Linked DNA regions of Homo sapiens: region 2 is linked to region 1. The links come from fine-mapping of genetic effects on gene expression. A gene starts in region 1. The other region holds a variant in brackets. All regions are shown on one strand. Distances are from middle to middle. Region 1 holds the start of PDZRN4 (PDZ domain containing ring finger 4). Region 2 overlaps CNTN1 (contactin 1).

Region 1 (15,354 bases):
ATTTATTAAATCGGGAATCCTTTCCCCATTGCTTGTTTTTCTCAGGTTTGTCAAAGATCAGATAGTTGTAGATATGTGGCATTATTTCTGAGGGCTCTGTTCTGTTCCATTGGTCTATATCTCTGTTTTGGTACCAGTACCATGCTGTTTTGGTTACTGTAGCCTTGTAGTATAGTTTGAAGTCAGGTAGTGTGATGCCTCCAGCTTTGTTCTTTTGGCTTAGGATTGACTTGGCAATGCGGGCCCTTTTTTGGTTCCATATGAACTTTAAAGTAGTTTTTTCCAATTCTGTGAAGAAAGTCATTGGTAGTTTGATGGAGATGGCATTGAATCTATAAATTACCTTGGACAGTATGGCCTTTTTCACGATATTGATTCTTCCTACCCATGAGCATGGAATATTCTTCCATTTGTTTGTATCCTCTTTTATTTCATTGAGCGGTGGTTTGTAGTTCTCCTTGAAGAGGTCCTTCACATCCCTTGTAAGTTGAATTCCTAGGTATTTTATTGTCTTTGAGGCAATTGTGAATGGGAGTTCACTCATGATTTGGCTCTCTGTCTGTTATTGGTGTATAAGAATGCTTGTGATTTCTGCACATAGATTTTGTATTCTGAGACTTTGCTGAAGTTGCCTATCAGCTTAAGGAGATTTTGGACTGAGACAATGGGGTTTTCTAGATATACAGTCATGTCATCTGCAAACAGGGACAATTTGAAATCCTCTTTTCCTAATTAAATACCCTTTATTTCCTTCTCCTGCCTGATTGCCCTGGCCAGAACTTCCAACACTATGTTGAATAGGAGTGGTGAGAGAGGGTATCCCTGTCTTGTGCCAGTTTTCAAAGGAATGCTTCCAGTTTTTGCCCATTCAGTATGATATTGGCTGTGGGTTTGTCATAGATAGCTCTTATTATTTTGAAATACGTCCCATCAATACCTAATTTATTGAGAGTTTTTAGCATGAAGGGTTGTTGAATTTTGTCAAAGGCCTTTTCTGCATCTATTGAGATAATCATGTGGTTTTTGTCTTTGGTTCTGTTTATATGCTGGATTACATTTATTGATTTGCATATATTGAACCAGCCTTGCATCCCAGGGATGAAGCCCACTTGATCATGGTGGATAAGCTTTTTGATGTGCTGCTGGATTCGGTTTGCCAGTATTTCATTGAGGATTTTTGCATCAATGTTCATCAGGGATATTGGTCTAAAATTCTCTTTTTTGTTTGTGTCTCTGCCCGGCTTTGGTATCAGGATGATGCTGGCCTCATAAAATGAATTAGGGAGGATTCCCTCTTTTTCTATTGATTGGAATAGTTTCAGAAGGAATGGTACCAGCTCCTCCTTGTACCTCTGGTAGAATTCGGCTGTGAATCCATCTGGTCCTGGACTTTTTTTGGTTGGTAAGCTATTAATTATTGCCTTAATTTCAGAGCCTGTTACTGGTCTATTCAGAGATTCAACTTCTTCCTGGTTAGTCTTTGGAGGGTGTATGTGTCGAGGAATTTATCCATTTCTTCTAGATTTTCTAGTTTATTTGCATAGAGGTGTTTATGGTATTCTCTGATGGTAGCTTGTATTTCTGTGGGATTGGTGGTGATATCCCTTTTTTCATTTTTTTTTTTTGAGTCTATTTGATTCTTCATTGTTTTCTTCTTTATTAGTCTTGCTAGTGGTCTATGAATTTTGTTGATCTTTTCAAAAAACCAGCTCCTGGATTCATTGATTTTTTGAAGGGTTTTTGTATCTCTATTTCCTTCAGTTCTGCTCTGATTTTAGTTATTTCTTGCCTTCTGGTAGCTTTTGAATGTGTTTGCTCTTGCTTCTCTAGTTCTTTTAATTGTGATGTTAGGGTGTCAATTTTAGATCTTTCCTGCTTTCTCTTGTGGGCATTTAGTGCTATAAATTTCCCTCTACACATGCTTTGAATGTGTCCCAGAGATTCTGGTATGTTGTGTCTTTGTTCTCGTTGGTTTCAAAGAACATCTTTATTTCTACCTTCATTTCGTTATGTACCCCATAGTCATTCAGGAGCAGGTTGTTCAGTTTCCATGTAGTTGAGCAGTTTTGAGTGAGTTTCTTGATCCTGATCAATGAGACAGAAGGTTAGCAAGGATATCCAGGAACTGAACTCAGCTCTGCACCAAGCGGACCTAATAGACATCTACAGAACTCTCCACCCCAAATCAACAGAATATACATTCTTTTCAGCACCACACCACACCTATTCCAAAGTTGACCTCATAGTTGGAAGTAAAGCTTTCCTCAGCAAATGTAAAAGAACAGAAATTATAACAAGCTGTCCCTCAGACCACAGTTTATTTATTCTTTCAAGATTTCCGGGAGGTAGGATGATACAGGTGTCAATGATTTCATTTTATAGATGAGATTATACTGAAATTAAATAATTTATGTCAAATCTATGGCATGGCAGAACAAGTCATGGCAAAAGCATCTCTTTGTTTCTTAGACATCGTTCTAGTCAACAGAGTTTCCATGTGGAATTTCCAGTATCCATTATTTTAAAAAATTATATTTTCATGTAATAAATTATTAATATATAATATTAATTATGTCTAGATTTCCTTTGAGTTTGGGATAAACGAGCAAACAAGTGGCTTCAGAAGCCCAAAGAAATACTGATGGTAAATGAGATCAGTGATATTTTTCCTGGTTTTGTCTTCAAACCTTAGTTACATTGGTTTTAGATTGTGGTTTCCACATCACTGTAATAAAAAGTAAAAAATGACAATTGACAAAATAATTTCTTTTCTTCCACTAAGCAAGAAGCTGACTTAATGAGCTCACATCTCAAAATTCTGTGAAAATTGCTGTAATTTTGCAGAAACATCCAGAAAAATATTACTATAGAAAATTTTTATTGAACGAAGCACAAAGTAAGAGTTTGACCGAAATATATAGTGATTGATTTATTAAGACAAAACTTAAAGAACATACGCAATTGGTTTATTACATAGAAAACTTTCAGCTATTTAAGACCAGTTATGTGGAACAAAATGGTCTAAAATAGCCATATTGGTTATTGGTATTGCATAGAACAGTTAAACGATATTCTCATTTACATAAACTATTCAAAGGCCTCTAATAAACATGACCTTGGAACTTCCCTCATCAGAGGAAGCAAAACAAAAAGAGAGCTTTTAAACGATGGAATCAAATGAATGCAATTACAGAGTCCATTCACATATTTCATTCGATAGCATATTTTATTCTAAAATAACCCCATGGCAAGTGTAAGAAAAACAAGCCAATACAATATAGCGTTTAAGAGTCTGAGTTCTTTAGTGAGGCTGATCTTAGTTTAAGCCTAGGATCTGCCACTTTTGATTTGTGTGAACTTGGTCAAGTTATGGGAACAATAAAAGTACCCACTCAAAATCGTCATTGGAAGATTTGAATGAGATTGTGTATGTAGGGAATGTAGTGCTGTGGCTGTCACATAGTAAGAGTTATTATCTATTAGCTTGTGGTTGTTTTTTATACCATCTCTCTTTGTCAGTGACTATGACCCACAAGATATAACACAAAATTAAAGTTAACTAAATGCAGAATTTAATCTATTTTTCTCTATAAACCATCTCTCACAATAGTCCCTTCTTAAAAAGAATAATAGTACCCTTCCTAATGTCTGGGTGACTTTGGAAGAATCAGTCTGTAATCTAATTTTAAGTTGCCACAATTTTTAATTTAATACCTCACTTTAATTTGATTTTCTTCAAATTCCTCATTCTGCTGTGTCTGATAATTCATTCCTGCAGAGACTGCACAATTATTGTAAATTATTTACTCAATTTTGGTGTACATAATTGTTTTATTCATATTACTTTATTCCCCTTAAAAATGGCATTCTGTACTGTCATAATACCCCTTCCAACTACATTTTGCCAAAGACAGCAGGAAAGCAAGATAATAGCAAATAACTCCTAATGGATTATGTGTCAACAGACAGGAATTATAAGAATTGATACTGCTCTGTGTTCTCAGGATTTAACTGATTATGTATAATTTGGAGTGAAACATATCCAAAATGTATCACTTCTCTAACATAATATATTATCAGCCTACTTTTGTAAAATAAAAAAAATCTGCCTCATTTTTAATAAACTTTCAACTAACTCAACTTCAAAGTATCTTTTATTGTTCTTATCAAGTTTGGAATTTTTCTGTACTGTCAAAGTGACCTCGTTATTATCTCATGCATTACAAACATAGTCATTTATGCTACTAGGTGCAAATCTGATCCCACATTATGATGGAAAAATTATCAAGATAAGAACAAAGTCCATTAACTTCAACACAAATGAATGTATTCCACAGGAAATATTTTGACCTAAAGTGGCTAAGTACTTTTGCCTCAGCTACCAGAGTAATTTAGTATAGTTACAGATTACATTTAGAGCACTTGGGATAATTATAGAAATAGTACTAATTTATGATAAATGACCAGGGAATTGAGAAAAGAAAAACATAGATGATGAAATTTTCTTTATGAGAAAGTTTATATAATAGAGAATTGAAAAACTATTGTTATATATAAAGTACTAACTTATGCTATATGAACACATATAAAATAAATGTTTAAGGTCCTATTCTTTGAAAAATTCCCCCAACCTTTCCAACTTCATGGCCCTTAATTAAATAAATAAAACATGAAAAAGAGTCACAAATGAGTTGGTTTTGACAAAGCATTATCTGTGCATGAGGTGAAAAAAATCTTTCTCTTTCACATTTTACCTCTCCATTCATCATTTTTGAGTCTTAGAATACAGTATTTTATTTTGGGACTTTTAGCATTTGACTCAACAACCAATACTCCTAGATTCATTCTTGGAAGTAGGCATGACTCAGAGCTGGGATGGAACCCTGCCTCTTCTCACTGGAAACACCCAAGGCACATCCCAGTTTCATTACTGCACTAGGAATTGGCCCAAATAATTTAGCAACTTAATGTTTTAATCTCTTTTCATGAATATATGACTGCTGATAGCAGATGAAAGCAAAAACTAGTTACTAAGCTGAAAATACTCAACCAACTACTGATTGCTTAAAGATTTTATTTTATTTATTTATTTTTTCCTTGAGGTGGAGTTTCACTCTTGTTGCCCAGGCTGGAGTGCAATGATGTGATCTCGGCTCACTGCAACCTCCGCCTCCCAGGTTCAAGCGATTCTCCTGCCTCAGCCTCCTGAGTAGCTGGGATTACAGGCACCTGCCACCATGCCTGGCTAATTATTTTTAATAAATTTTTAGTAGAGATGGGGTTTCACCAAGTTGGCCAGGCTGGTTTCGAAGTCTCAGCCTCAAGTGATCCACCTGCCTCGGCCTCCCAAACTGCTGCTTAAAGATAACTTGAATCAAGCCATGATTCTTGGCTTGGAAATAAGCTAAGTGAATTCATAGTCTTTCCTTTGTTTCTTGGCTGGCAAAGCACAATCTCAGCTCCAGGCTGAACAAAAGGTTATGAGAAATGTAAAAGGCTTGGTTTTGGCTACAACGCACAACACAGCTAGAAGTTGGCCTTGCCCAACAAGAAGACAGTGGGTTTCCTTTCAGCTCTTCCCCAAGTGTTAGTATTCAGCCTGCAATTTTCACTATCCAGGGATGTTTAGATGATAGACAATTATGATCAGTGAAAACATAAGAGTATGCCCAAGCTAAAGATGCAAGGTGTTAATTTGTCTAATTTGCCAAAAAGCATCTAAATATTACTGGGTCTGTTTTGCTGAAATATTTGTGCATATATTAAACTCATTTAAAGTGCTTTCTTTGTTTACCCAAGCTAATTACTTCCATTTAATTAGGCTCCATATTCCTAGCTCACTCAAGCTTTTCACTGATATTACAATTTTGCTAATATGTAGAAAAATATTTTACAGTCTGGGAAGTGAAACGAGACTATCTGACTCAACTGATGTCACAGACTTATGCCACAATGTTTCCAGATGGCAAAAGTTTATGAGGTTCACTTGGGTGTGTCCATTCTCTTAGAGTTCAATTCTTGTCATGTTTTTTCTTTATACTTAGCTCTTTTGGAAATGCTTAGGCTTTTATTTTATTACGTAAAAGATTTTCCTGTTCTGTTTGGCCTATTTCATTACTCAGTTTCACTTTACATGCCCTCATTTTGGAACTTCCTATTCTCTGTGGACAACGTTTTTGACATCTGCTTTACTTTAATAATAAAAATGTTATGCATCCTGGAATTAGTCATAACATAATTTGCTCATGCTCCTTACTTTTGCTATAGGAATTGCATGGGTATACCAAGGATATCATATGAACTTTTTTTTTTTCCAAGTAACTGAAGTCTCATGGTCCTAACAGTCTCATGTCTCAAAATAATATTTTTGGATTCCATCTCTTCTCTCTCTTTTTAAAAATGCTGTCAGTGTCATTGTGTTTACTGTAAAACCAATAAATGTCAAGCTATAGCTATAACTGTATATGCATGGTTATAATTATAAATGTTTATAGCTGTAAGTCACAACTTTTTCTATAGCTAAAAAAAGGAATAGATTTCTCCTGCCCAGAAGTATTTTAATAAATTCTAGAACATGTATTTCCAGTTTATGCAATTCACAAAAATATTTTCATGCTGTTAATATTAAATGATTTCTTATTTAATCAGTAATTCATTGTTTGCTTATTTATTTGTAGAAAGACAGGTCGAAAGAGGGGGGAAATTTGGAACATAGGGGCAAATGTTACTTTATCACATATGAATCTATATATATTAAATGAGAAATATAGCATCTTATTTTGAAAAAGAGTTTAAAAGCATATCAAACATCTAGCACACCAATCATCACTGGTTATTGAACAACTAACAAAATCTCATCTTTCAAACAGCAAGAAGGCTCAGAAGGTTATTAGCCTCTATTATTAGTCTTTGCTAATTCTTCAGTTAGCTCCAAGGATTTAAAAGACAAAGTCTGGAGCTGTTCTCATCAATTCCAACTGATGCCATTTGGTGTCATAGAGAATTACAAGCTTTCCAGGAACAAGGCTCAACTGGCAGCAAGGAATCATCAATGATTAATTTATAAAACCCACCCAAGCATCTGGTGGCAGCTTCAGGATAATGGCAGTAAGTGATATGCAGCCAGGTGACAGGATCTCTGCATTCCTAAGGTTCAGAAGATGGTAAAGGAAGTGGAGTAAGAAGGGTTTGGAATGACGCCCTACTGCGTGTTTTCAGGACGGCTTGTCATGCTACACAATTTGAGGAGTCAAACTAGGAGGGGAGGCAATTTGGATCCAAAGGGTTCATTCAGGGTAAGTAGAAGGAAGCAGCCACTAAGATTTTATTTATATGTTATTTCACTGCTTTCTTTCATCATCCTTCCCTTTAATTTTCCCTTCCAGGTTCCCAAATGATCACATTCCCGTCCCCAGTAGTAAAACGCCCGTGGAAGTAGAAGATGGATGCTGTGGCAACTGAACCTGGAGTCAGACTCAGAATCCCAGCTTCCTCACTCGGGAGGAGGCCTTGCATGGCTGTTCATGGGCTCCCTAAGAAGGCAGTGTCCTGAGGCGGGCCCTTGACTTTTTCCCCATCTTTGCTGCTAGGTCAAGGATCGCGCCATTCTAACTCACCTGATTTCTGGATCACGGTTTGAGAAGCCTGGCCCTGTGGATTTCCTAGTGTTATTTTCCTTATAGTGATTTCCTAAGGTCACAGTTTCCTAACTTCTGATTTTGTAGTTTTGATGTGAAAGAACAAAAGTGCTTCGATTTCAAACATATTGGAGATAGACTCGACGCCGGGCGGGCCATGGGCATTCAGCGGAAAACCAGACAGACAAAAAGATTCTGCTCTCCCGAAGCTTACATTGTGGTGAATTTAAAAGTTGTTTCTCAACATTAGCGCTTTACCCATCAGCAGCCCTGCCCAGGGCGAGGCGCCTCGATGCTTGAAGTTCACTGTTCAGGCGAAGGAGAACACAGTGTTCCCAAGGACCATTGTAAGCTGGGCGGCCAAAATTTGAAAGAACATAAATCGCAGGGCAACGAAGGAGGCGGGGGTCTCTGGAGGTTACTTCTATTAGCGTCAATACGGGCGAAATCAGGGGACCTAGCAGGAGCCTGAAAACTTCAAGCCAAACAAACAGTGAGATCACACCTCCCACCCGCCACCTCCCTCCACTGCCGCCGCCGCGAGACGGCTGCCCCGGGGGTGGCCCGGGGAAGGCAGGGGGGCTCGGAGAAGACGGACTCTGCTTTCGCTCCCCCTTTCTTCCCCATCCCTAACATGGGCTTTGCCCTGGAGCGCTTCGCAGAAGCCGTGGACCCGGCTCTGGAGTGCAAACTGTGCGGCCAGGTGCTTGAAGAGCCCCTGTGCACGCCGTGCGGGCACGTCTTCTGCGCCAGCTGCCTGTTGCCCTGGGCGGTGCGGAGGCGCCGGTGCCCGCTGCAGTGCCAGCCCTTGGCGCCCGGCGAGCTGTACCGGGTGCTGCCGCTGCGCAGCCTCATCCAGAAGCTGCGAGTCCAGTGCGACTACCGCGCCCGCGGCTGCGGCCACTCGGTCAGGCTGCACGAGCTGGAGGCGCACGTCGAGCACTGCGACTTCGGCCCTGCCCGCCGGCTCCGCAGCCGCGGGGGCTGCGCTTCGGGGCTGGGCGGTGGTGAGGTGCCCGCGCGGGGGGGCTGCGGTCCGACACCCAGGGCTGGCCGGGGCGGGGGCGCGCGCGGGGGGCCGCCGGGCGGCCGCTGGGGCCGCGGGCGGGGACCCGGGCCTCGGGTCCTCGCCTGGAGGCGGCGCGAGAAGGCGCTGCTGGCGCAGCTCTGGGCGCTGCAGGGCGAGGTGCAGCTCACGGCGCGCAGGTACCAGGAGAAGTTCACCCAATACATGGCTCACGTCCGCAACTTCGTCGGCGACCTCGGTGGCGGCCACCGCAGGGTAAGCAAAGGGGGGTGGGCACCGCGGGCATGGTCGATTGGGGTGGGAAAAGGAGCGGTTCTTTCTGACGCTTCAGGATTCCTTTGGAATTGGGCATCCTTCCTCACTATGCAGCAGGAAACATCCACACCCTGATCATACTTTCCTGTCATTATCTTACGAATGGATTGGCGTCGAAGTTAAGGATTGTCCCTTTTCTGATTATATTACGATTGGAAAGAGTTAAACAGATTCGATTCTAACTTTCCCCCGGGAAAGTAGGAATTGTGAAAACTCATTTTCCATCCAGACTCTCGTTTTCCATCTTTCACCCTCCTGCCCACCGTCTCTGCCTATTTTTTGAGCACTTGTCCCGTGCCTGAAGCAAATCCGAGAAGGAAAGACAGAAAGCGAAGACTTTCCCGGCCCAGCCTTTCCTCTCCCGCGGCCACCAGCATCCCCGCGGCCCTGGCAGCCGCGCACGCACACCTGGGACTGGTGTCAGCGTTGATGACACTTGCGCTGCCACTGCCTGAATCAACTGCCTTCTATTAAGTTGGGGACTGTGAGGCACGTTGGGGCCAGGACAGCCTCAGGAGTTGAGAGATGGGGTTTCTTAGACTTGCAGAGTTCATTTCATCACTCTGACTTTCCCTAAATAAGCCTTCCTTGCCTCGGGATCTCATTATTGGTGGAGAGAGAGAGAGAGATTGAGATTGTGTGTGTGCGACCTGGGAAGTCCAGTCCGAGAACCTCCATCTGTGGTCAGACCGGCCCTGCGAGCCCCCAGGCAGCGGTTGTTTCCCTTCTTTGTCTAAGCTGCTGGCCCCGAACTGCGCTCCTGGTCCTCCCGCCGGCTTTCATACCGAATAAACAAGCCTCTTTGCAGCATCCCGTGTGAAGAGGCTTGTTTATAAAGCTGTTACTTCTCTCCTGGAGGACTTCTGCACAGTGTCTGACATTGTTGGTCGCTGCCATGGTGAGCAGGGATTTAGCAGAATTTGCGCACCATTCAAGGAGCTGTTTTCATTCTTCAGCACTCCCGGGGAGGAGCAACCCAGAAAGATTCCCATTTGGGACTGGCTGCTCCACACTGCCTCTAACTCAGGCACTGAGTTTAGAAGCGCCCGTCTTGAACGTAAAAGAGAAAATTGAAGTGAGAGGGACTAAAATGTTTCTACCTTGATGAATGGAAGCACGTTGTGTATTAAACGACCGGTTTCAAGGAGTATTTCTCTAGTTCATATATGCATATACATATACGCATATATACAGGTAAATTTACAAAACGGGAGGACCCGGGGAAAAGCACAGATAGAAGCTTTGTATTACCAGTCCAGGTTTCAAGGTCGTAGGAAACCAATGGTTGAAGGAAAGGAGGAACAGCTAGAATAATATTACAGAAAAGTCCATGCAACAAGTCAAGCTATGATTCTGAGAAGTGAGAAAAACTGCCCATGATTTGCAGACTAGCCAAAACCTTCTATGTGTTCCTCAGAAGTGTTTTTCTACTACCAGTAGGGGCTGCTCTGCGCATTGCCTGGGAAAAGCTCCTGGGAAAATATCTTGATGCTGATAGCAGTGATGATGATGCATATGTTCTGAATGTTATCATTCAGAAATAGTTTCCAAGTAAAGGTTAATAACATCTACAACCATGAATAAACCCACCTAGTCCAGCACTAATTCATCCTATGTGTAAGTTAGTCTTTACTAATAAACATTGTAGCTATAATTCATATTTGTTTTACTATTATTTGGCCAGCAGGAAAAAATACATACTACTTTACCTAGCACAAACCCTTATTTTTTTATTCTGCAGGAATTATGCAAAACCAAATAGGAATATTATTTAAAATTAGGACTACAGTAGCCTAACAGATCCTGCATTACAACAGCAACATGAATGTTATGACTATAATTTATAAATAGTTCCAGTGTTTCTTAAATTCCTTAAGACTTTACAAAATAAAAATTTTACACTATTGATAATTTATATTTTACTTTTCTGTAATGGAGGGAAAAATAAAGATACCTCCAAGGTTTAACCAGAAATCTGTTTTCAATTGCAGTGAAATCAGATTTAGATACTGCATTAGGATAAAAGAGCTTCCTGTCTCAAAATGCAAAGCCATTTAGTAATTTTTGAAAATAGGGCTTTTTCCCCTCACATGCACAGTTGTTCTTTTTCAAATACATACTTGCAAAGTAAGTATAGGAAAATGTCAACCTTCTGCCACATTCAACCATCCTTAATTTTAAAGTTTTCCTCTTTTCACATGTCAGTTAACTTACAGTACATAAAAACTTATTGTAGGATTTATTTTTCTTTTATATTTTTACCTGGTTAAGTCATTTTATACATTTTTTTCTAGGATGGAGAGCATAAGCCATTCACTATTGTGTTAGAAAGAGAAAATGACACTTTGGGATTCAATATTATAGGAGGTCGACCAAATCAGGTAAAACACCTTGTTAATGCATTACTCGTTACTTATAAAATAAGCATTAATAAGCATTACTCATTGCTTATAAAATAATAGAGGACTTAGCTTTTGTTTGTGGATTTTGAGTAAGAAAAACAAGTGGTTTAATCTTTAAAATTATACTTGTGATCAAATATCAGATTTCTTAATGCAAATATTCCAGTACATACCCAGATTTTATTTATTTATTTATTTATTTATTTATTTATTTATTTATTTTGTTTGTTTGTTTGAGACAGAGTCTTGCTCTGTTGCCCAGGCTAGAGTGCAGTGGCACGATCTCAGCTCACTGCAACCTCTTCCTCCTGGGTTCAAGCAATTCTCCTGCCTCAGCCTCCCAAATAGCTGGGATTACAGGCTCCTGCCACCACACCCGGCTAATTTTTTGTATTTTTAGTAGAGACAGGGTTTCACATGTTGGCCAGGCTCGTTTTGAACTCCTCACCCCAAGTGATCCACCTCACGGTCTCCCAAAGTGCTAGGATTACAGGTGTGAGCCACCATGCCTGGCTCTGATTTTATTATTTTTTAATTTTTAAAAATTATTTTCTTTTTGAGTTGGAGTATCACTCTGCAGCCCAGGCTGGAGTGCAGTAGCGTGATCTCAGCTCAATGCAACCACTGCCTCTGGTTCAATTGATTCTCCTGCCTCAACCACCCAAGTAGCTGGGATTATAGGCGTGTGCCACCACGCCCAGCTAATTTTTGTATTTGTAGCAGAGAAAATACAAAATGTTGGCAAAGCTGGTCTCGAACTCCTAATCTCAAGTGATCCACCTCCCTCACCTCCCAAAGTGCTGGGATTACAGGCTTGAGCCACTGCACCTGGCCTTTATTTTTGAGAAAAACAAAAAACAACAGCTAGCAAACTTGGTTCTCTTTGCTACTTTAAAAGAAGAAAAGGAAAGTACATTTCACATTTTATCTAAATTTTATTGTCCTTTTGGCAAATTTCTTGAATAAACCTATTTCACAATACCATGTGTAGGCAATTTCTATTTGATAATATTAGGCAATTGTATTGCCTGCTTAAACCTATTTATTAAGTGCAATTACTCAGTTTGAAGATGCTAATACAGACTAGGAAGAAAATTATATTGAATGAATGAATGAACAGTTGAAACAAGGGATGATTGATTTCAATAGGAAGTACCATGTTAAAGAAAAACAGTTGATTAGAAATATTTTTGGCTCCCCAAACCGAGTTCTTTGTTTGATTGCATGAATAATATTCTTCATGTTGATGTCAATTGTTTTCAAAATGCATATTTTAAACTTATAGAATATACTGTAGTTGCAAAGTTCTTTTATATCTTTGAATTCCTGTGTCAACTTAATTTTCACCGTAACTGGAAAAAGGTGGTTAAGTTTTAAAAAATGATGTTCTTTAATTTTTCTCAATAAACTGCCATGAAATTTTTGCATCCTGCATTGCAGATGTTGTACAAGGAAACTGTCTTAGTGTTGTTGGCCATATGCTCTGTTTAGGTAAGGATGGCAGTGACATATTTCTTCCTTGTTTTTAGTATTTTGAAAACTTAGCAACTAATGACTGCTGTGCTTCTCTTTTTAAAACAGTCCTCATTTATTAAGATGAAAGCCTTTTCATCATAGCATTTTCGTTATCATTTTCCCTAAGGAATATTTTTATAGATTCTATTTTGGTATTTGACATTTAGATGACATCGGGCCTTTTTAAAAAGTCTCTTAAAATTCATGATAAGGACAGCTAAAGAGAAATAATTTTATTTAACCTGTCATGAAGTCAAATGACATTTAAAATTATATAATGTATTATTATAGGATGTTGGATATTTTCCCCTAAATAAGCTTTGACTTCTTGTGACTGGCTAAAATGTCCTATTTTTACCATATTGGCTATGTTTGAGGTTTAACTAATCATGAGTCAGACTGCACCTGGAAATATGTAACGATGAGTTTGCATGGGTTCCCTTTTGCATAGGTTCCCTTGCAGTTTAGATGTGATCTTTTGGGATTTTACACTTGAGTAAGCTACCAGTGTCTCTTGTGAATAGACACAACTAGAGCTATGTTTCTAAATCTGGCACATCAAAAAGCTAAATTACATTTCTAAACTCTACCACATCTCAAACCAGTTATACAGTGGGAACCAGATATATGTTTTTTTCCTTCTTTAACCTTATCACCCTTTTACTTGCTGTCTCTCTTTAGAAGTGAGATGTTTTATAAATAATACTTAAAAGCCAGTTTATTTCACCTTGTACATGCCCTTTCCCATAGCTTTTTTATGTGAACTCAAAAATGTGAAGTAAATAGATAATCTTGTCAGAGACCCTGGACTCATTCATTAAAACTGCCACCTTGATTAATGACTAGTTGGTGTTAAGTAAGTTAAAATTCTGTTCCAAATCCCCAGCTAAGAGAGTTGCAGGTTTACAGAGGATTGGTAATGTTACATTTGGTAAATTGTCCCTAATAATATTTAAATTTTGCTTACATCTTTCTTCTGCTAATGATTTTTTAAAAATAGAATAATCAGGAAGGAACATCGACTGAAGGAATTTACGTTTCAAAAATTTTAGAAAATGGACCTGCTGACAGAGCAGATGGCCTGGAGATTCATGACAAAATCATGGAGGTAAGACAATGATAAAACATGTATATGATCCATGCAAGAAAGATTGGGATATTTTAAGTTTTCAAATTTACCACTTTACCTTGGTGTGGTGCTTATTAGAATATACATTCTTAGTAGCAGTAAAGGCATTATCATTTTTACTTTCTTACAAAAAATGTAAAAGTCACTGGGAGAGGTGGCTCATGCCTATAATCCCAGCACTTTTGGTGGCTGAGGCAGGAGCATCACGTGAGCTTAGGAGTTCGAGACCTGACTGGGCAACATTGTGAGACTTCATCTCTACCAAAAAACAAAACAAAAAAATTAGCTGGGCATGGTGGCACATACCTATGGTCCCAGCTACTCAGGAGGCTGAGGTGGGTGGATCACTCGATGTTAAACCCAGGAGGTCAAGGCTGTGGTGAGCTGTGTGTAGGCCACTGCTCTCTAGCCTAGGCAACAGAGCAAGACGCTGCCTCCAAAAAGAAGTAAAACTCTATTATGATTCTATATAATTCGTTAGATATTGTGATGAAAGAATAAAATGCCTGAAGTTTTCAAATGTGTTAATGAATACCTCTGTTTTAATAACCTGTGTTTCCCATGAACTATGATGTCACTTGCTTGATTATTAAAGGATTAATTATTATAACATTTCAAAAAAGGATGATAAATCTCTGTTGAGGAACATTTCTGATGAGGAACTATGATTATATTTTAAATTTGTAATTAATATTTTATATGTAGAGTTTGGAATAAATTATACAATACTTTTAATATTTCTTGGTGTAATATGGCTACCTTGTTCCTGTCATTATCTTTTATATGAAAGAAAAAGAGAAATACCTTTTTTTCTCTTTGTTGTGAAAACCTGGTGAGAACTCTTTGTATGTTTTAACTGTATTGTTGTATTCGGGGGTGATAAAGTGAGCACCTATATGCTAGTAAAATTGGGTTATGTTAATGAAATTTTATGTCCCTGCCATCTGCCATCTCTGTCCTTTTGACATTTTATTAACTGGTTAAGATAATATTACTTTTTGTTGCCAAAAATGGTTAAGTTACTTTTATCAGTGAGTTTATTTCCAATGGATTAGTGAAGCTATAAATAGGAATTTGGAAGGTTTACTTGACTCCACTATTGTTTTTAAAAATTCTGTTCACTCTAGGCTATATAATCACTAGTGCTATCTCTCTGAATACTTATATAAACTATCAGAATGGAGGCAGATTTTCTATATTAAATTTTAAATAAAGTTTTAGCTTTTCATTCATCCTCTGTGCACTAAACAAAGTTGAATTTTTAATGAATCGACATAGAGTAAGAGTGAAGAATATAGAAGACCCAATAGTTTGCTGTTTTGGGAAAAA
Region 2 (15,354 bases), 140 kb before region 1:
AGGACTTGCTTTATGAATCTGGGTGCCATCCCCCTCAAGCTACCAATGACTTTCTTCACAGAATTGGAAAAAACTACTTTAAAGTTCATATGGAACCAAAAAAGAGCCTGCATTGCCAAGTCAATCCTAAGCCAAAAGAACTAAGCTGGAGGCATCACACTACCTGACTTCAAACTATACTACAAGTCTACAGTAACCAAAACAGCATGGTACTGGTACCAAAACAGAGATATAGATCAATGGAACAGAACAGAGCCCTCAGAAATAATGCCGCATATCTACAACTATCTGATCTTTGACAAACCTGGGAAAAACAAGCAATGGGGAAAGGATTCCCTATTTAATAAATGGTGCTGGGAAAACTGGCTAGCCATATGTAGAAAGCTGAAACTGGATCCCTTCTTTACACCTTATACAAAAATTAATTCAAGATGGATTAAAGACTTACATGTTAGACCTAAAACCATAAAAACCCTAGAAGAAAACCTAGGCATTACCATTCAAGACATAGGCATGGGCAAGGACTTCATGTCTAAAACACCAAAAGCAATGGCAACAAAAGCCAAAATTGACAAATGGGATCTAATTAAACTAAAGAGCTCCTGCACAGCAAAAGAAACTACCATCAGAGTGAACAGGCAACCTACAAAATGGGAGAAAATTTTTGCCACCTACTCATCTGACAAAGGGCTAATATCCAGAATCTACAATGAACTCAAACAAATTTACAAGAAAAAAACAAACAACCCCATCAAAAAGTGGGCAAAGGACATGAACAGACACTTCTCAAAAGAAGACATTTATGCAGCCAAAAAACATGAAAAAATGCTCATCATCACTGGCCATCAGAGAAATGCAAATGAAAACCACAATGAGATACCATCTTACACCAGTTAGAATGGTGATCATTAAAAAGTCAGGAAACAACAGGTGCTGGAGAGGATATGGAGAAATAGGAACACTTTTACACTGTTGGTGGGACTGTAAACTAGTTCAACCATTGTGGAAGTCCGTGTGGCAATTCCTCAGGGGTCTAGAACTAGAAATACCATTTGACCCAGCCATCCCATTACTGGGTATATACCCAAAGGACTTTAAATCATGCTGCTATAAAGACACATGCACACGTATGTTTATAGAGGCACTATTCCCAATAGCAAAGACTTGGAACCAACCCAAATGTCCAACAATGATAGACTGGATTAAGAAAATGTGGCACATATACACCATGGAATACTATGCAGCCATAAAAAATGATGAGTTCATGTCCTTTGTAGGGACATGGATGAAATTGGAAATCATCATTCTCAGTAAACTATCGCAAGGACAAAAAACCAAACACCGCATGTTCTCACTCATAGGTGGGAATTGAACAATGAGAACACATGGACACAGGAAGGGGAACATCACACTCTGGGGACTGTTGTGGGGTGGGGGGAGGGGGGTGGGATAGCATTAGGAGATATACCTAATGCTAAATGACGAGTTAATGGGTGCAGCACAACAGCATGGCACATGTATATATATGTAACTAACCTGCACATTGTGCACATGTACCCTAAAACTTAAAGTATAATAATAATAAAATAAATAAAAAAATAAAATAAAAAATTCAGAGAAAGAGTAATGGAAATTTACAGAAAGGCTAGGATGTTAGCTTCAAAATGCAGGATTGTTTTGGATTCAAGAAACAGAAATTGCTGACAAGATGGATACTGAGATTAAAACAATTTATGATGCTGGGTAAATTGCCAAGGATTATGTCAATAAGTTGAGTTGTAAGAATTCTGGTGCAAACAAAGTCAGTAAACACAGGTTTATCCTTTAAAAATATATTATTTGGCTCTATCACTGTTAAATAACATTTAAGTAGTCAAGTAGAGAGGAATATTTAAGGATTGGTTTACATCATTAATGACATAAAAATTGTAAATGTTTTTGTTTTGTTTTATATTTTAGATTAGTTATTCCACAATTTTGAAATCTATGAGGCAAATCCTTCACCTCAAATAACTGCATTTGGTGATGTGTTCTAAATTTAGAATGTTATACTGGGAGGGTAGAATCTGGAAAGAATATTGCTGAAGGAACTAAAATTGGAATCTAGCATGAGGAGGAACTCCCATATATAGTGAGTGCTTTGGAAAAGGACGTCAGAAATTAAAGAAATTAATCATTTTTGGAGAATGTAATTATAGTGAAGAATTTTCGGAGAATGAACCAATAGTCCTAAGGGAGATACCTTTATTCAAAGATGATTTCATTTTTCTGAGTATTGGGTATTAGCAAAATTTTAATTTTACTAAAAAGTAATGTGTTTCTCTTACCTGTAAGTATAACACCAAGGTTTGAGAAACTTCGTTGTAAAGTTTCAACCAATTTATGATATATGCATGAATAAATTATTCATGAGAAAATGGATAATCTTTTACAATGATTTATATGAAGAATTTTAATTATTGGTAAGCCTAATTTTGTATTTTTCTATGAATGTTGATTTACTAATGACATAAAAAGTTACATTAAGATATCTATTCTTTACACTCAAGTGGATTGAAAACATCCTGTTCCTAAGGATGAACTAAGATACACCTACCCCCGCCCCAAATCATAGGATATTACTTTACCTTCTCTTCTGAAATAAGAGCAACACAAAAGTTAATTAAAACAATCAGATTATCTTTAATAGATATATGCATCAACCATCAGAACAAGACTTCAAAATTCACTTTCCTTTGAAACATTATAGGCTGTGTTGAAATTTGTAACCCTCTTAGGAAAATATAAAAACAATTGTCTGTTCTGAGAAAGGGAGTTGGGTTTTAAATTTTCTCTCCTGAGGTTTGACACTTATTCACTATAACATAAATTTGAAAACCATTTAGAAAGGAAAGTGACTTTGTGATTTTTAAAAATAAAACCCTTGAAATTTCTCATAAATATTACTGGAAGCCTTTAATGCCATAGTAAGAGGGAATATAAAATGCTTAAACTGGAAAGTGATATGTCAACATATTAAAATGGTCCATTCGATACTACATTAGGGACCAGCTTTAGTGATTTATGAAGGAGCATTTAGGTCTCAAAGTAATTCCCATAGTTGGGTAAGGCTAGAAGCCAGGCCTCTTGGTAGATTCTTCACAGTATGAGAGCAGTGCAAAGGACATTCCAGAGGCAGTTTTTATAGACACATTCTGCAAAATCATCCAGACCAAAACAAAATAAATAATTTAGAACAATTTCAAGAGTATGAGATTATCCAGCCAGTAGTCCTTCTTCTATAACCTTCCATTTTAGGGCCTGCATACTTGACTCTCACTTCTTTTTCTTAAAAATGGGCTCAAAAGCAAATAATCAGTCTTGGGTCACATGGCCAGGAGAAGTAAGAAGAGTGAAGGTTATTGAAGGTTACAGAAAATGCAGGAAGAGTCGAGGGTGTGGCAGAGTACAGAGACTAACTCCTCAAGTCCCTTAGCCCATAGAGATGCCTTAGAATTCTGATGTGCCTGAAAGTTGTGAATCTTTAGGATATCAACATCCATGTAGATGATTCATCCAATGCCATAGCTTCTTAATTTATCTAACTTTTCTTTTCTGATGATCTTGTCCTGTGTCCTGCCTCAGCCACCCACTCATGATCACAACCGAAACAGGAATTCACAGATTTCAGTGTGAATTTGAATTTGAGGGATTTCTGAAACTTGGATGGTAAAAAATTACATTATAATTTTCATGAATTTCTAACTGAAATTTGGCATTTTAAAATATATGAATTTAGGTCACATATTACTCTGTCACCAATAACAATCAAACATATTCTCATATATTTCAGCTGTTGAAGTATTACTTCAATAATACATTTCTTAAATCTGCTCCTAGATCCTGTTATTTAATGTGTTAATAAGCATACTATTTGAATGTGTTAGTAACTTACATTTGGTTTCTTGATACTTTTATAAATGAATTTCAATACAATAGGTTTTTAAAAAACTCTATGTATTATATTTTATGCATGTAATAAGAGCATTATTCTCAGTATTTTCAGAAATCCACAGACCACTAAACGGGTCCATGACACCAAAAAGTTTAAGAACCCCTGTAAATCTTAATATTACTAATAACTGCAAATTTTTTTCTTTAATTTTGATTTTAAATACTGTGTTCTCTGACCACTGATTCTTCTTTTTCTAGTTTATTTCCTTAAATCTCCTCCCAACTCCAGCAGTTCTTCTACTTTCCCCTACCCAGACTACCAGTGATCTTATTGCTTATTTCTTTTTTTTTTTTTTTTTTTTGTCCTTCATTCATCCTCATGTCCTCAGCTCCTGCCTTGAATGTCAGCTCAGATTCCACGGTTCATATTGAAAACAACTGCCCTATATACCTTGTCCCTTTCCCTCTTTATGCTTCTCACTTGGCCAAACCCAAACTCATATTAAATATAACTGTTCACATTTTATGTGTCCACATCCAGGCAGAAGGCAGAAGCCATATGCCCCTACCAAGATCTCCCCTTTGCATTCCCATCCCCCTTGCATTCCCATCCCCAACATTCACCCTCTCACCAGCACCACATACCTAGAGACTCTGAGATATAATCTGTTCATGCCCTTCAGCCTTGTTTATGACAGTCACCTACAGAAACCCAGGAGTCTCTGATTAACACGGATCCAGGTGCCCATTTTCTGACATCTCTATTCATACTTTACTCTTAAAACCTTCCCACTGTTCCCTCTAAAACTCACCATCAGTTATCAGTAGAGTCTTCTGTAACTTCCATCTACTCACTGAGTGCTTCCTTCACCTTTTAACTTTATCTGAAGTCTTGCTCTCCCTGATGACATTGCTCCTTCTGCAGTCTATTCAAAAGTGGTGGTTCTCTCTCATACCCCTTGAAGGCTGCACCTGGTGGAGGGTAGTTGACCTTCCTTTTTGTCACTTCTACAGTATTCTCTTTCTCTCTTGCCTAAAAAGCTCTGCTTGGAATCATACCATCACCCTCTCCCACCCATTTCCCCTTCTTGTCCAAGTTTTCTACTAGCCTCTAGGGCCACTCTTACTCATTCCATGGAGACTTTACTTTTCAGATAATTTTCATTCTTTCCAAATGACATTGGAGAGAATGCCATTCTCTTTTATACTTCTTTCATAAGTTCTAGTGATACAATGTAGGCATAAATGATTTTTGCATTACTCTGTCCTCTCCATTTCTTTCTCTTATTGATGTTCTTCCCACGGTTCTACCCTAGCCCTTTTCATTACTATCTACATAATCTCAAACATCCTATCCTCTGCCCACTTCCTATCTTTACTCTTACCTCTGGTACTCAGACTCCCAAAAGTTTTTGACCTATCAGGAAGGACAAGCCATTGATCTGACCACTGTCTGTGTCCCTTACCTTCCTTGTATCCTCACTCTTTCCATATCCAGCTTAAATCCCACAGCCATATAATATAATTATTCCCTTGCATAGACCACCCATTCCACCCAGAAGTTCCCTTTTGCTACTCTAACTTCACCATACTCACTTGGCTAAAGGAGTGGATTAAATTTAACTCACTACTTGCTCCAAGCCTACACTTTCATGGCTAAAGGTGGCCAGAGAAGAATGCCAACACGAACACTGGTTTCACCTTGAATTCATGACCACAAAACTTCAAGTGGGCCCATAGTGCTGCTGGGCCATTCCACTAGATTTTCCTAGCACATCCACTCTTTCTTTCACCTAGAAACCTATTTCACACCTTCTTTTTTTCTTTCCTTTAATTTCTAACACATCTTTACCATCTTCTCTCTTTAGTCAATGACCTTGCTTCCTATTTCTCTGAGAAATAAAAGCAATCTGAAGCAGTCGACACCTACACATACGCCCATGTGACCTGCCTTTCTTTCTAAGATCCTGGCTGAATGTTCTATGTTCCTAAGGACACCCCTCCACATGGAAGCCAGATTCTAACACCTCTCGTTAATTCAAGAATATTGCTTCAACTACCCTTTCCTTCCTCTTCTACATCATTATATTTCTTTTTTTCTATTTGATTTTTCTCATCACCATACAAGTATTCTGCAATATTGCCCACTTTTAAGGGGGGAAAATACAAATAAGACAAAACAAAACAGAGCAACAATTGAAAGAAAGAAGAAGGAAAAAAATGAAGGAAGGAAAGAGGGAAGGAAGGAGAGAAAGAGAAGAAGGAGAGAAAGAGAAGGAAGGAAGGAAGGAACGAAGAAAAACAAAAAAAGAAAATCTCTTCCAGTAACTAACGCATGTTCTATTATCTTCTTTGGAGTAAAATTCAACAAATAATTTATCATCTTCACCACCTAATTCCTCTTCCAAAATTCTATCTTAAATTTGTTCCAATCAGATTTTCACCACAACACCCTGTCAAAACAGCTCTTGTCGAGGTTGCTAATGACCTCCATGTTTCTAATTTAGGAGTAGTCCTCTCCTTACTCAAGCTCTCAGCAGCACTGATGCATATGGCCACTTTCTCTTTCTTGGCTTTCTGGGCACCAGTCTGTTTTGATTTTTCTTTTCCCCTTAAGAGCTGCCATTCTCAGTCTCCTTTTCTGGTTTCTGGTAATCATTCCAACCTTTGAACTTTAAAGTCTCCCAGGACTCAGTACGTCAGTAATTCTTTTCCTCTTAGCCCTTAGGTAATCTCATGCAGTCTCGAGGCTTTAAGTGCATGACATGTATTTGTAGAAAACAATCAAATGTCAGTCTTCTCTGATTTATTCAGCTGCCTGATTGCTATCTCCATTCAGACATCTAATTTAAACTCTTCCCCATCTCCCTTTGTTTGCTTTTTCTGCAGTTTTACCCATCTCAATAAAGTATCTCCAATCTTCTTTGAAGTAATTTTTGGCATCATTTTCTTTAACACACCACATTCATTTCATCAAGAAATCCTGTTGGTTTTACCACTAAAATAAATGTATTGAGAAACATCCACCTCTGCTGCTACCATCATAGGGTCCAGTCACTGTGCCTTGTCTCCAGGATTGTTGCACTAACCATCTAATTGTGCTCTTCGCTTGGTGCTTAACACCTACAATTCATTCTTAATATAATGACCACAGTGATTATTTTAAAATATGTCAGCTCTTCTCATGTCTCTGCACAAAAACCTTTAATGGCTTCCTATCTGAGAAGGGGACTAGATCATATTCATATTTGTATTTTGCCTGATCTCTGCCAATCTGGGTCACTACCATTAACTCCCCAGCTCATGACATATAAACCAGTTTCTGG[A/C]AAACATAAGCCTGTTTATTTTATTTCCCAATGTCCTGCAAAATTTGATTTAACTAATTAAGATGTCTGTAATTTTTTTGTTTTGAGATGGAGTCTTGCTCTATCACCCAGTCTGGAGTGCAGAGTAGCACAATCTCGGCTTACTGCAACCTCCACCTCCCAGGTTCAGGCAGTTATCCTGTCTCAGCCTCCCAAGTAGCTGGGATTACAGGTGCATGCCACTAGGCCCAGCTAATTTTTGTACTTTTAGTAGAGACAGGGTTTTGCCATGTTGGCCAGGCTGGTCTTGAACTCCTGACCTCAGGTGATCCGCCTGCCTCGGCCTCCCAAAGTGCTGGGATTACAGGTGAGAGCCACTGCACCCAGTCAAGATGTCTATAATATTATTATAAATTTATGTATGTTTTTATTATTTATATGTTGCATTAGTCCATTCTCATACTGCTATAAAGAACTACCTGAAACTGGGTAATTTATAAAGAAAAGAGGTTTAATTGACTCACAGTTTCACAGGCTGTGCAGGAAGCATGGCTGGGAAGGCCTCAGGAAACTTATAATCATGGCAGAAGGGTAAAGGGGAAGCAAGCACATTTGCACACAGTGGCAAGAAAGAGAGAAGGGGGAAGTGCTACACACTTTTAAACAACCAGGTCTCATGAGAACTCACTCACTATCACAAGAACAGCAAGGGAGACATTCATCCCCATGATCCAATCACCTTCCACCAGGTCCCTCCCCCAACACTGGGGATTACAGTTCAATCTGAGACTTGGGTGGGGACACAGCCAAACCATTATCATATGCCTTGATTATTTAACATAGGTATGTTCTCTTTTTGCATAAATGAGAATAATGGTGTCTACCTTTGATATGAGCCATAAATGAATAAATTAAACCTGTTTTTATATATCTTAAACCTTTGCCACCCAATTATAACCGGAAGTATGAGTGGGAAAGACAACACTCTATATCAGCATTTCTCAAACTTTCTTCATTATTGCCTCCCTAGGAAGCCTCGTTACATATTATTTTTCCAAGTGTTACCACTTATGAAATTTTAATACCAAAAATCTACTGTATAGCTGTTTATGTTATGTGGCCCTTTAGAGATCCAAAACTATTATGAGATTTCAGATTTTCCCACCCCACAAGAACCAACTTTCACTTAGTTGGAGGCCATGTTGGCCCTATTGAGAATGCATGCTCGGTGGAGATTCTCACTCATTCCACTCCCTGGAGACACAGTAAATTCTATGAATCAATCAGTCCAAACCTTCAGTGAGCTGTGTTTTTAGAACATATTGCTTTGTGATCTTTTTTTTTTTTTTTTTTTTGAGACGGAGTCTTGCTCTGTCACCCAGGCTGGAGTGCAGTGGTGAGATCTCGGCTCACTGCAAGCTCTGCCTCCCAGGTTCACGCCATTCTCCTGCCTCAGCCTCCCAAGTAGCTGGGACTACAGGTGCCCGCCACCATGCCCAGATAATTTTTTTTTTTATTTTTTAGTAGAGACAGCATTTCACCGTGTTAGCCAGGATGGTTTCGATCTCCTGACCTCGTGATCCACCCACCTCGGCCTCCCAAAGTGCTGGGATTACAGGTGTGAGCCACCGCACCCAGCCTGTTTTGTGATCTTATATAATTAATTTTGTATTGAATTGTACTTTAGTCTTATGCTATTGGCTTAGACTGAGGGCAATTAAAAATAAAGTAGAGAAACAAAACCAAAAAAAATACACAAAATCTACTATTATATTATTCTACAATTGTTGAGGATATATTTCTATAAAACACATACAAAAATGTCCTCTTTTTAAGGAACTGTGAATGAAAGTTCTCTCAGGTAGGGGTGAACCTATAGAAGTGAGCACCCTGGTCTAGGCCAATAAATAAATATTTAATGTCTAAATAAAATAATTTAATATTAACATTAAATTAGTCTTGAAATTCCTGCATACTATGTATTTAATGGAGAAGATGAGATCTTGTAAGAGGAAGAATGCAAGGAGGATCACTTCTGTCTAAACTCTGGAACAGTTCATCTCCTAACATCCACCCCACACAAACACACACACACACACACACACACACACACACACACACACACACACAAAGAAACCTACAGTTAAATAATCCATTCTCTGTGAGCAGTGTAGATATTACTTATTGGAATGTATTAAATAGCAGACTCACTCTCCACACACACACACTCTAAATAGCTTATCAGCATCTTCCTTCAGTAGAGAACTGTGGGGGTAGAATACTGTGATAAATATGCTTTCCCAATTTCTTGTATTTCTAGTACTGTGTTGGCATCCAGTACAGTTTATATCCCGGATATCTGCCCAACTAGACTGTTCCATAAACTTTGTCTCTGGTCTTAAGACCAGAAGTAGATAAGCTCTTCCTGAGACATTACTTGTTTTTATCTTTTGGATAAAGACATTGGAAACTCAATGGCTGATGTATTTCCGTGTTTGCACTGCATGGCCAAAGCTCAGAGCCAAATCTGCTACATGCCTATAGCAAAATATATAAAGTATTGTATATTTTACTTTAAAATGTCTGAATATATATGCAGTGGCTTTAAAAAGTGCCTGGAACAACACAGACACAATAAATATTAGCAATATTTGTACTAGCTTTAGTTGATGTTGCTGCTATTTTGGTATTACCTCTTATTTTGTATCATGTTTCCTAACTTTATCTTTTTTCCTCTCAATTTTCTTATTTGTTTTCTTTATCATACTTTATCTATCTTTGTAAACTATCAGAAAGTCTTTTTAGAATGAAGTAGCCTATAACTTATAAGTAAATATTTATATTTTATCCCCCAAAGAACCTGGCAAACCATTTTGACTCAGTGTTTGTTTTTTCAATTTAACTAGCAAAAAAAGTTCTCTAGATAAATACTGTTGGATTACAATATCTGGAAGACTTCAATAGTAAATGTCTTAAGAACATTTATTTATCCTCAAGAACTACAAAACATGAATCGGATTTCCAGTATATGCTTTATAATTAAATTTAAGCCAAAAAGAATTCTTGAAATATTATTTAAAGTTATAAAGAATGCATCTAAAATGTGAGAGCCAATAAAATCTAAAGAGAAAATTCTTAAAATAAAATGGACACAAGAAGAAAAATGAATTAAAAAGCACTTACATATTTAGTAAAATAAATGTGCTTAGAAAATAGAGAACTGGCATGTGTGATCCTAAGACTACATAGATATTATAATCCAAGCAGAAGTCTAAAATATAAAGCAAACCAATTTGATAGAGAAATATTTGAAGTAGAAAAAATAATGATGCCATCACATTTGAAAAATATAGTCTTCATAATTCTTACATTCTTTCAAGTATCCCAAGTGCTTTCGTGACATTATATAGTCTGAGTTTATTTTTAGAAAGCCTTGGTTTTTATAAATAAAAAGACATTCTTTCTTTTTATAGAGTCACTATGAATGGCTGACTAAACTTCTAAACATATAAATACACTGCCATGGATATATGATACCCAAAATGAATTTGATGTAGAGGAAAAAGTAGTTCACAGACAAAATTTATTTAGATTTTGTCTCTTTCATGTTTTCACTAAATATATATATATATATATATATATATATATATATATATATTTGCCAATAATGCAGTGTCAGTTCTTTATAAGGTGGCTTATTCCTGGAAACTCTTGTTATTTTGTAATTTTGTTAATTATGTTGCCCTTTATATTGATGATTTAGATGTTTGAACATATCTTTTGTAGCTCTCTGCAGCCACATGTTATTCTTTTTGCTTTTGCTCCTGGGACTGAAAACTGTCGTCATCAAGAACTTTTAACTAATCTTTAACAGATTTTAAAATAACTAACATATATTTAAATGTCATTACAAATAATATAATGCTAGCTCATATTTATTATTATACTTGTTGAACTTTGGATTCAGTTAAAGGAATAAAGAATTATTTAACTTAGCATTTTCTTACTCTGACTTTTTAATCCTTTTTTACCCATTTTTAAAATAAATACAGTGTACCACTAAGGCAAAAGTCCCCAAAACTCTATTGTCTTCTTGTTCTTTCATTCTTTAAAAATATATATTGTATGCCAGCTCTTAATTGTGTTCATGGAAACTTGTAAAACACTAATCAATATTCTATAAGCCAGATAAAATAAATATAAAAGGAAACATTTTATATCTGAATTTTAGAGGCTAATTCCCTTTCCTCAAAGAAAGAGAAGTTATATTATTCTCAAATTAAAGTGAAAATGAGTATGCTTTCTTATTGCTACTTGATTATTTAGGACTATATAGTGCCTTAAAGTCTCTATACTATCCTTTCTGGTATAAGATTTATTTTTCTAAAATTTGAGAATGATAAAATTAGTAATAAATTTTGCTAGGAGTTATAGCATCGATATTGGGAAAAAATAAGGCAACTATATTACAGGCACTAGTAAACATAGTATTATACATATTTCCTAGAACATATTTGACTATAAACATTTTTCTACAAATTAAGTAGATATTGTTGTCAATGCCTAATATCTTACCTATTTTTCATGGAACATAACATGTATGAGGCAAGGTTAGTTATACACAAGATGAAAAATCATGGTGAAAATATGATTAGAGTATCTGCTTTAGCAAAGAGAGAAATGGTAATTCTCTCCTCATTTTAAACATAAACAAGTTTCCTATCTTTATAATTAACCTATTGATAATATAAACCAAAGCACTTATCACAGAACATAGCAGTTGCTCAATTATTTTATTGATCTTCAGCAGTTACTAATACATTCTGTAAGCTAGCACACAAATAAGGTACTTCACATAGAATAATGTCTTTAAATTACACTATCAGTTGCCATGTCACATTTAAAGAACTCATTCTCTAGTTATTAGATGTACTTGAATGTACTTATGTGATTTAGAGAATGTCAAGTCATGCAATATATTTTTGCAAATTTGATGAATTTTCATTTATATGTGTTAATTTTAAAATATTGTTTCAATCATTTAATATATTTTCTACACAGCTCTGCTGCATGGTCAATGAACAGTATGTCATTTGTGGTTTATCGTCAGCCATTTTTAATTAGACGAAATCCAACATTGCAAGTTTTAAAACTGAAGATTAGGCATCATTCCAAGTAGCAAATATTTTTGTTTTGGTTTTCTTCTAGGTTAATAACTTCTCTGACATTTGCACAACTGTGTTTGAAATATAGTCTAATAGAATATGTATTTGCCTTCTATAAAATTAATGTCCTAGACGATGATAAAATATGTTGAAGTTTTAAGGGAATTATTTTTTTTATTATCTTGGATTGGTCTATGAATTAATGAAATGGAAATTAATATACATGAGAGGATCAACTATAACTTTACATTAATTTAGAGTATTATAAGCAGTGGCTTAGAATAAGAGTTTACTTTTTGTGAATATCCAGGATAACTTTCACTAGCTTCTCCCTTTTTCACAATGCATTTCTTGGTAAATATTTTGTTATCATCACGACAGTGGGTGTTTCTAAAACCCATTCATATATTTTGCCCCATCTCTTCTTCCTTAGTGTGTTTTCCTCCTCCTCCAGGAAACCCCTTTTCTGCTGCCACCTGGAAGTACCCTCCTTTTTGCTCCCCTCATATCTTTGGCATTCTAAGTGCAATTGTGTTTACCACACCGTACTACAGTTGTGGTTTACTATCATTCAACCAAGATCTCTTGAGAAGAAGAAAGGCCATTTCTGCACCCAGTACTGACCACAGAAGTAGTGGGTTCTTATTAAATTGAAATTCATGAATGGAGGTTTGGCAGTTAAGTTTTTTCCTGTTATATTAAAACTGAGAAGCAATCCTAAAGAAAGAAAAATGACTTGGATAGAAACTCACATTTTAATCACATTTAGATGGTTCCTGCCCACTTAGTTAAAACAACTAGCATCTTTATCTATAAGTTGGATCATGTCAATGTACCTTTCTCAGCAGTGACTTCCTCTCTCTTCCCTCTCAGCTTCCCACACAGGGACATTACAGCCACGGATTTGCTCTTACTTTGAAGAAGCACGGGTACCTCAGTACCTAGATCTTCTTTTGAGTTTGCACAACCTTGGAGATGCAGAGTAGTTAAGTTGTAGTCAGAAGAGCCCTGATTCCTCCCGGCTTGGATTAAGTGGTACCCTAAATCCTAAATACCTTCTAATGCCCTTTAGTCTGGGCCTGGCCAGATACTTCTTTCCTGAGTCCATTACCAGAAATCTTTGGAATGTGGCCTGCAGAGACCACAGACAATTGGCACTCATTTTTCAACAAACAAAGTAGGTTAGAAAATAATTTTCCAGCTATAATAATACAAAGAGCCACCAATCATGAAATATTTATTTATAATAGCAATGCACTCTGTATCTTTGTTAAAATAACACAATTAGCTAATTGTTACTATCACCATTTTACTGATGAAGTCACTGAAATTCAGAGAGTTTATGTAACTTGTCCAAAGTCCTACAGCTGGTTAAGCTAGGAGCCAGAATTCAAATGATTTAGTTCTAACACTAAAGCATGTGCTCTTAATCTGTATACTATGTTAGGATGGGATTAGTTCCATATGGCAATTTTTAGCAAGAACCTGATATTGGGACATGACATAGCAACAAGAGAAGAGAAACAGAGATACCCAGAAATACACAGGTCATTCTATAAGTAACTACTATATTGCAGAATAAATAGTGAATGCCAGATAGGCACAGCTAAAATTTCTAGCACTCCAACTCCAAACCAAATTTTGTTAACTATTTGGGAGAGGACCTGACATAGCTTCTGCCATTATCTAAACAGACAGAATCCACATGATTCTTGGAGGAGGAAAAAATTAAATAAACTCAGATTACTTTCTTTTAATCTTCTAGACTCCATCCGTACAAGTGGAAAATTCATCTGACTCAGTTAAAACTAACATATTTAAAGCACCAATTATATAGTCCAATTAAAGTATTATCTAAATATAACATTTAGATCATAATTTATTATATTATAAATATTTGGATATTTATAAATATTATATTTAGATATTTATAAATATTTATAATATTTAGATATTTATAAATATTTATAATATTTAGATATTTATAAATATTATAAATATTTAGATATTTATAAATATTATAAATATTTAGATATTTATAAATGATATTTATAAATATTATAAATATTTAGATATTTATAAATATTATAAATATTTAGATATTTATAAATATTATAAATATTTAGATATTTATAAATATTATATTTAGATATTTATAAATATTATATTTAGATATTTATAAATATTAAGATATTTATATTATAAATATTTAGATATTTATATTATTATATTTAGATATTTATAAATATTATTATAAATATTTAGATATTATTTATAAATATTTAGATAATATTTTATTTCCTCTAAAGAAAGAGCCATGTATTCCTGGTCCAAGATTATATTCTAAACACAGGCTTAACTTAAAATAGACCATGATCACTACAAAAAGGAAGAAAGGTGATAAATAACACTTAAAAATCTCACATGTACATTAGTAGACCCTTTACAAGGAAAATATTATTAAAGTTTAATGTGCAACTAATTTAGCTCGGTGAAATATTTTTGATATGTATTAAAAAATCAACCTATGGCTAGCTAACAATGTAATTCTCAGAATATGCAATATCAACATAAGACTCTGTTCATATTTCTGAATTAAGCACTTTAGTGGATATTGGTTTAGATGGGCTGATTGCTTGATTTTAAATCTTATTTGATGAATTTGGAATGGAAGATTAAGAAATAAAGGTAGAGAGGTATGATTGGAGTATAAGTTATATTTAGACTGTGAAAAGGGAGAAGATTAAGTTTGTGGTCTTTGCTTTTTGTTTTCTGGCGTTTTGGCGTGATTTTTTTTATTTTTATATTTTGCTTTTCTTATACATAAGCATGAGATGATGAGATCCTAAACTTCTAATGCACAGGCAATAAAGGTGAAGAGTCGTGAGAGATTCTAGAGCTATACTGGAGATCAAATCAGTTGGACTTGGCACCCAAGTTGATATATTACA

Evidence for each region.
Region 2: its variant is fine-mapped to the expression of PDZRN4 in tibial artery (GTEx, PIP 0.96).

The regions. Positions count from the first base shown.
Region 1 is chr12:41,180,185-41,195,538 of GRCh38, forward strand. It overlaps PDZRN4 (PDZ domain containing ring finger 4), which reads left to right and starts at 8,136. Exons shown (of 10, transcript NM_001164595.2): 1 at 8,136-8,919; 2 at 11,274-11,360; 3 at 13,897-14,004. The coding sequence starts at 8,272. It overlaps LOC124903069 (a long non-coding RNA gene), which reads right to left and starts at 8,048. Exons shown (of 2, transcript XR_007063563.1): 1 at 7,617-8,048; 2 at 2,846-7,146.
Region 2 is chr12:41,042,573-41,057,926 of GRCh38, forward strand. The region is part of intron 23 of CNTN1 (contactin 1); the gene reads left to right. Among named protein-coding and RNA genes, the nearest start is that of PDZRN4, 140 kb to the right of the region's middle. The variant A/C (reference allele first, on the strand shown) is at 7,260.